Homo sapiens: one gene and its partner. The protein of the gene in region 1 purifies or fractionates together with the protein of each later gene. This does not show direct contact. Each region holds a gene or a part of one and is shown in the gene's direction. Other genes may lie near its edges.

Region 1 (4,288 bases):
CTCCTTCACCCACCAGACTTTCAGGCCAGAGGCAGAGGCTGTCCTGTGGGGAACCCCAAATGTCCTGTTTCTGCTCCCAGTCCATCAGGAGTATTTTTCTTTTCTTTTCTTTTTTTTTTTGAGACAGAGTCTCGCTCTATCACCCAGGCTGGAGTGCAGTGGCATGATCTCAGCTCACTGCAGCCTCCACCTTCTGGGATCAAGCGATTTTCCTGCCTCATCCTCCCGATTAGCTGGGATTACAGGTGCCTGCCACCACGCCTGGCTAATTTTTTGTATTTTTAAGAGACGGGGTTTTACCGTGTTAGCCAGGATGGTCTCGATCTCCTGACTTCGTGATCCACCCGCCTAGGCCTCCCAAAGTGCTGGGATTACAAGCGTGAGCCACCGTTCCCAGCTTAGGAGTATTTTCTAAATGCACCTTGCTTTTTTTTTTGAGATGGAGTCTCACTCTGTTGCCCAGGCTGGAGTGCAGTGGTACGATCTTGGCTCACTGCTCAACCTCTGCCTCCTGGGTTCAAGCAATTCTCCTGCCTCAGCCTCATATGTAGCTGGGATTACAGGTGTGCACCATCACACCTGGCCAATTTTTGTATTTTTAGTAGAGATGGGGTTTCACCATGTTGGTCAGGCTGGTCTCAAACTCCTGACCTCCAGTGACCCACCCACCTCGGTCTTCCAAAGTGCTGGGATTACAGGCGTGAGCCACTGTGCCCGGCCCTAAATGCACATTTCATTTCAGAGCCTGGGTGGCTCTGATTTGTAACCTCAGGAAGCGGAGCCTGATGGCAGGTGGATGGGCCTGGCCCCAAGTGCTTGTGGAAGGAGCAGAGCCACAGGCTGGGTCAGAAACGTGCTGTCCCATGCGATCCTGGATGGAGATGCCTGATTTCAGTGGGTGGTGCCTCATGGATGATTGCTGGGTTGGGCAAGAGGAAGGACTTGGAAACCCTGTTTTTCTGTTTCATTTCCAAATCCTGGAGTGTCTTTTAGCCAACTATGGCAATAACACCTCCACTAACCTCCTCTCTTTGTGGCGCTGCAAGTGCCTTCCTTCTCCAACTCCTTGAGGCAGATTCTCCCTTGAGAATCCAGGGCACTCTGATGCTTCCTCTGAACCCCTTCTAGCGTTCTTTCCTCTTCAACCTCCTCTCGCTTCCCTGTCTCCTTCAGGAAGCCTTCCCTGAGGGCCTCAGTGACTTTGCTCCGGCCATCCCTCCCTGTCCCTCAGCACTGACATCCCAGTCTCCTGCCTGCTTCCTTGTCTTTGGGCATGCCTATTTCTCCAACAGCCTGGGAGCTCTGAGGGCAGGGTCTGGGTTTCCTTCTCCCTTGGCTCTGCACGTGCCGGACACTTATTCTCCAGGCACGTCAGAGTAAGTCAGCTGGAGCCAAGTGACAGACACAGTCAGGTCAAGAGTATCTTGCTCTCCAAGGCCCAGCCCAGGTACGGGAGTGGATAAAAGTCTCGTGCTGGGGCCCCAGGGCAGAAACTCACACACCTTGACAATCTGTCTGTCCGTCTGCAGCTGCGTGACTGTCTGTCTCTGCCATGTCTCTCTCCCCATGCCGGGCCCAGAGGGGCTTCAGCGCTCGCTCAGCCTGTTCTGCTCGCTCAAGGGGCCGCAGCAGGGGAGGCTTCAGCAGCAGGGGCGGCTTCAGCAGCAGGAGCCTTAATTCCTTTGGGGGGTGCCTGGAAGGCTCTCGTGGGAGTACCTGGGGGTCAGGGGGTAGGCTGGGGGTGCGGTTTGGGGAGTGGAGTGGTGGGCCTGGGCTCTCCCTGTGCCCTCCGGGGGGCATCCAAGAAGTGACCATCAACCAGAATCTGCTGACCCCACTGAAGATTGAGATCGATCCCCAGTTCCAGGTGGTGCGGACGCAGGAGACCCAGGAGATCAGAACCCTCAACAACCAGTTTGCTTCCTTCATTGACAAGGTGAGGGTCAACTCAGCCAAGCCCCTGTCTCTGTGCCTCCCTTGGAGGAGCTGCTCTTGATGGACTTGGAAATGGGAAGTTTGGCCTCCTTCTACCACTTTTCTAATAACTTCTGCAGCAAAGAAGTCCCTCCTGTGGACTAACTGGACTCTCTCTGGCTATGCTGAGGCCCTGTTGTTCCATGATTGGGGCTCAGGGACAGAGAACTGCCAGCCAGCGGGGGGAAGGCCCTGCCCCATTAGTCAGTCCAGTCATTTTGTTGTGTTCAGAGTGTCATGGAAGGTCATGAGGCTTCCCCTGCCCAGGTTGGGCAGGGGGACAGGGGAAAGGTGAGGCTGATGGGAGGGTCCCTCAGGCTTTACTTTCCAGAGGCTGTGCACAGGGAGTCCCACAGGAGCCTCAGGGATCCTCTGCTTTTGCTGCAGGTGCGGTTCCTGGAGCAGCAGAACAAGGTCCTGGAGACGAAGTGGCATCTGCTGCAGCAACAGGGGTTGAGTGGCAGCCAGCAGGGCCTGGAGCCTGTCTTTGAGGCCTGCCTGGATCAGCTCAGGAAGCAGCTGGAGCAGCTCCAGGGAGAACGAGGGGCTCTGGATGCTGAGTTGAAGGCCTGCCGGGACCAGGAGGAGGAGTATAAGTCCAAGTAGGCACACTGAAATTTCCCCATGCCATGTGGGCGGGGTCTGGGATGACTCAGTTTGGGTCTGTCAGCCAGGAGGTGTCCCACATACTGAGCACCCAGAGGCACATGACTGGCCTCCCCTCTACCCCTCCGCGTCCCCATTCCCCAGGCTCTCAGGTGCCCACCTGCTACAGGTAAACGAGGTGTCCCGCAGTCCCCAAGCAGATCTGGAGAACCTTGGAGGAAAGGCAGGGAGACCGGTGTCCTACATGCCCCAGCTACAAGGGCCCATGTTTCCGGTCAAGGCTGGGAAGGGCTTATTTAAACAATGCCCCAGTGGCTTTTTTTATTCTTGAGAAATTCCTGTTCAGCGGGCTGTGGGCTAAAGTGATTCAGATGTTCTCTGGTTCCAAAGAGGGAAGGGAATCAATTTAGTGGGGCTGTCCCCAGGCCTGTGACACAATTCACAGATGGGCTGTGGTTCTGGGCTCCACGCCTAGGTCACCTGGTGGAGTGGAGAGAGCCCTGGACTAATAGGGGGCTTGGGTTGGGGCAACTGTGAGTGAGGGGTAGCTGTGCATCCTGGGCAAGGCATCTCATCTCTCCCGGACTTGGTTTCCCTTCTGTAAACTTGGGAAATGTCACCTGCCCTTCTGGCCTCCCAGGGCTATTGGGATAATGGGATGTGAGGTGGAGGAAGGAAGGTTCTGGAAGGAGCCCTGGATTGGGGTCAGAAGACCTGGGCTGGCTCTGCTTTGTCTACCTAGTCATCTGTGGGGTCTTGGTCAAATCATCTAATCTCTCTGATAAAACCCAAACTGCCTACCTCAAGTGATGGGTGTGAGTAGCAAGTGGGAAAAGGTATTCGAATGTGCCTTATAAACTGAAACAATGTGGCTGTCGTCATCAAAAGGACATGGGCTGAAAGGGTGGCACAGGTACATAGCTAGGACGTGGCAGGAAAGGAGAGAAGGGCTGGTTATTGTCTTGTTTGGGGGCATTCTAAGGCAAGGAGTCCTTTTCAGGGAGGTCATGCTCGGACATGGGGGCATGAGCTCTGACCGTGGAGCCTCAAACTGCATCCTTCTCTACTTATTTGGCAGGTATGAGGAGGAGGCCCACAGGCGTGCCACACTTGAGAACGACTTTGTGGTCCTCAAGAAGGTGAGGGTGGGGGCCAGTGCTCCACTTACGTTCTGAGCATCCACTGTGCACGGAGCCTAGTCCTAGGCTGGGAGGGAAAAGGTGGGAGGTCCTGATTTAGGACAGGCTATCACTCTACCTGCAGGGGTCCCCTGGGAAAATGGGACATCTGCCTAGACACAGGGGCCCCAAGGCAAGATCTGACTAAAGGACTGCTTGACGAGCTCTTGATGTCACTGCAGGAGAGGGCGGGGAGGGAGAGGAAGAAGCAGAACTGGTTGTGATTAATCAGGGAAGACTTCCTGAAGGTGATGTTGGGTCAATGTTGGGCAAAGGAGAGAGCAGGACAGAGTGGGGCTGGAGGAGGAAGGAGGGGGTCTTGGGAGGCATGGTGGATGGGTGTTGAGCAGTGCATGAACAGAATTCCTGAGCCAGAGTAGGGACCCCAAAGAGGAAGAGGGGGTTACGTGTTCTCTCTCCCCTTGTCTCCAGGATGTGGATGGGGTTTTCCTGAGCAAGATGGAGTTGGAGGGCAAGCTGGAGGCTCTGAGAGAGTACCTCTACTTCTTGAAGCATCTGAATGAAGAAGT
Region 2 (3,500 bases), on another chromosome or scaffold:
GGAAAAGAACCTCCAGCTATTTGGAAAGTACAAAAAGCTTTATTACAGAAATTTGTTCCTGAAATTCGAGATGGTCAAAGAGAATTTGCTGCTACAAATAGTGTAAGTAAAATGCATGTTTACATTAGCCTTATTTTGACAGTGGTCCTGAGAAAAACAATGATTTAAATATAGAAGTATTTTATATTGAATATTTTTGATATAAAGTAGCATATAATTTGAACTAGAATATTGATGCTCTTTGATAGTCTAATATAAAAATAAAGTCATTTGTTAAATATCAGCTATTTAAAATTAAATGACCTTGTACTATTGTTTAACTTTTTTTTTTAATAAAGGAAAGGGATTAATGTTAGCCTATGAAGAGTTCAGATTGACTCAGAGGCTCCTTTATATTGATTATTCTACTAGTCAAATATCCTGATTTACCAGAAGACTGATGGAAGTTATTCTGTCATACTTAATGTAGCTGGAAGTAAGAATATGCCAAATGAGATTGCTTGTACATATGAAATCAATAATGAGCCTGGGATCAGTTTTTGAGGGTAAAATTAGCCTGGCCAGAGCTGCATTTTAGAAAACTTGAAGGTTGGCTATGGGATAGTCAATTGAACAAACAAAGTAGCATTTGTATCTAGATTGTTCAATTATGTAACTCAAAGTGTTTCCTTCCTCAGTATCTTGGATATTTTGGAGATGCAAAGAGTAAATACAAAAGAATATATGTGAAGTTCATTGAAAATGCAAACAAGAAGGAATATGTCAGAGTGTGTTCTAAAAAGCCAAGAAATAAACCTTCACAAACTATCAGGTATTTGTTTTCTTAGGTGATATATTTGTGCATATATATAGGTGTATTATTGATGATACCAATGTACAAAGGAGCATATCAATTAAATAGATTTTTTTTATTATACACAAGTCAAAAAATTTCAGTGCCTGATGAAATAAGTGATTCTTTTGAAGGCATGAGATGGGCACTGTAAAGCTCATGGCTATCTGTGGTGGGTGGGTGCCCTTTTCTTTTCCCTAAGTCCTTTTGGTGTCATCCCAGTATTGTGAAAAAAAATTGTAGAGGCAAAAAGTTTGAGTCCAGCTTTATGTGACTTAGAGAAGACAGCTTTCCTGAAGCTCCCTTTTTCATCTATAAAATGTAAATAATATAATGAAGTAAATTAAATTTAAAATAATTATTGATAAAAAAACTATAAGAACTACATTACTGTACAAGTGTACACAGTAGAATTATTATTGTGTATTAATGTGACTCTGGGTTGTCTGGAGCATGAATCTGGAAGATAACTGACTTGACCCTGTGGTCTGCATGAGAAGCAGGTATGACCGTAGATGTTCTTACTCCAGTGCCAAGTAGGTCCAGTTTCATTAACATTCCCACCTACTGGAAGCAGCTTACCTTATTTTTATGATGGAATTTTATCCACTCAAATCTTCAGACCTGGAAGAGAGCAAATCTTTTTTATTTGAGACAGGGTCTCACCCTGTCACTAAGGCTGCAGTGTAGTGGCATGATCACGGCACTGCAGCCTCGACCTCCCAGGCTCAGGTGATCCTCCTGCCTCAACTTCCCAAGTAGCTGGGACTACAGGTGTGCACCACTGTGCCCAGCTAATTTTTATAGGGATGGGATTTTACCATGTTGCTCAGGCTGGTCTTGAACTCTTGGGCTCAAGCAATTTGCCTGCCTCAGCCTCCCAAAATGCTGGGATTACAGGCATGAGCCACCATACCCAGCTGGCATACAGCAAATCTCGAGGGACTCTAGGACAGATGCATTTGGGTTTTTCTTTTTTTTCTTTTTTTTTCTTTTTTTTTTTTTTTTCTTTTTTTTGAGATAGAGTCTTGCTCTGTCGCCCAGGCTGGAGTGCAGCGGCGTGATCTTGGCTCACTGCAACCTCCACCTCCCGGGTTCAAGCGATTCTCCTGCCTCAGCCTCCCGAGTAGCTGGGACTACAGGCGCCCGCCACCACTCCCAGCTGGTTTTGTATTTTTAGTAGAGATGGGGTTTCACTATGTTGGCCAGGCTGGTCTTGAACTCCTGACCTCAAGTGATCCACCCACCTCAGCCTCCCAAAGTGCTAGGATTACAGGCATGAGCCACCGCGCCGCATTTGGGTTTCTACATCAAAACCTGACACCACCAGAGCCTGTGAGAGTTTCTTAGGGTCAGAGCTAGATATGGCAATTACGGTTATAACATTCATTACCTTCCTAAGCCCACTGATCATCTGTTGTACAGCCTCATAGTCTCTGGGAAATAAGTCCATAAATCAAGGAGGGCAATGAAGAAGTAGAAATAAGGACTGAACTAAAAGTCCCTTAATAACTGAATATTGAATGCTTCTGGTGAAAAGAATGTATTTTAAGAAAATTTTATGGGAATCACCATTGAGATGTATATAGGACTTGGACTGTATATTTTGAAGGTATTGGTGAGAGTAATTAGATAATCTTCTCCTGTGATTCTCTTTTATTTTTCTATTTTATTTTAGTTTAACAAGATTTCAGTGTGTTAATGAAGTTTGTTTATAACATTGCAGAACTGTTCAAGCTAAGCCAAGTAGTAGCAGTAAAACTTCTGATCCTCTAGCATCAAAAACTACAACTACAAAAGCCCCTTCCGTGAAACCCAAAGTTAAACAGCCAAAAGTAAAGGCTGAGCCACCACCAAAGAAACGGAAAAAATGGAAAGAAGAATTTTCATCATCCCAATCTGACTCATCTCCTGAGATCCATACTAGTAGTAGTGACGATGAGGGTGAGTTTTCCGTGAAATGGCTACCCTGATAACTTTAGATTATCTACATGAGTGGTGAGGAGCAGGATGCTGACAATTCAAAATGTATTTACTTTTCAGGGAATTTATCTACCTAATAAATTCTGTTTAGGTTTTTATGAAAGTAAGTTCACATTCCCTGAACATACCAACTGAAGCACAGTTGGCCCACACATGCAGCCTTGTAAATAGAAAAGGCAGAACTTACCTTAGTAATGCCAGTTATCTCAACTCTGGATAAGATGGAGGTTAGATCAGATGATTACTAAGAATCATCTAGTTCTAAACTTTTTTTTTTTTTGAGACAAGGTTTCATTCTGTCGCCCAGGCTGAAGTGCAATGGCATGATCCTAGCTCACTGCAGCCTCGAACACCTGGGCTCGTAACTCTCCTACCTCAGCCTCCAAAGTAGCTGGGACTATAGGTGTGCACCACCATGCCCAGCTAATGTTTCTTTTTAAGATATGGGCTCTTGCTTTGTCACCCAGGATGGTCTCAAACTCCTGGGCTTAAGCAGTCCTCCTGCCTTAGCCTCCCAAAGTGCTGGGATTACGGGCATGAGCCACTGCGCCCCACCTAGCATAAACATTTGAGTCTAAGTTTATGCTAGAAGAAAAGAATAACTAAGCCTAGGAAAGGGGCACTCAAATTATAATATAGTAATATATTTAATAACGTATGCCACTACATTATTTAATAAATGCTT

What was found. The genes of interacting proteins can lie anywhere in the genome.
Region 2: the proteins of KRT78 (region 1) and QSER1 purify together in Homo sapiens (affinity purification with mass spectrometry; one large-scale study listed by BioGRID and IntAct). This does not show direct contact.

Annotation. Positions count from the first base shown.
Region 1 is NC_000012.12:52,846,195-52,850,482, reverse strand, and holds the start of KRT78 (keratin, type II cytoskeletal 78), read left to right. Parts: upstream 1-1,488; 5' UTR 1,489-1,552; coding exon 1,553-1,936; intron 1,937-2,199; exon of another isoform or gene 2,200-2,211; coding exon of another isoform or gene 2,212-2,265; intron 2,266-2,361; coding exon 2,362-2,576; intron 2,577-3,658; coding exon 3,659-3,719; intron 3,720-4,190; coding exon 4,191-4,286; intron 4,287-4,288.
Region 2 is NC_000011.10:32,955,311-32,958,810, forward strand, and holds part of QSER1 (glutamine and serine-rich protein 1), read left to right. Parts: coding exon 1-102; intron 103-677; coding exon 678-811; intron 812-1,027; exon of another isoform or gene 1,028-1,144; intron 1,145-1,414; exon of another isoform or gene 1,415-1,456; intron 1,457-2,558; coding exon 2,559-2,776; intron 2,777-3,500. UniProt on the Homo sapiens protein: Plays an essential role in the protection and maintenance of transcriptional and developmental programs.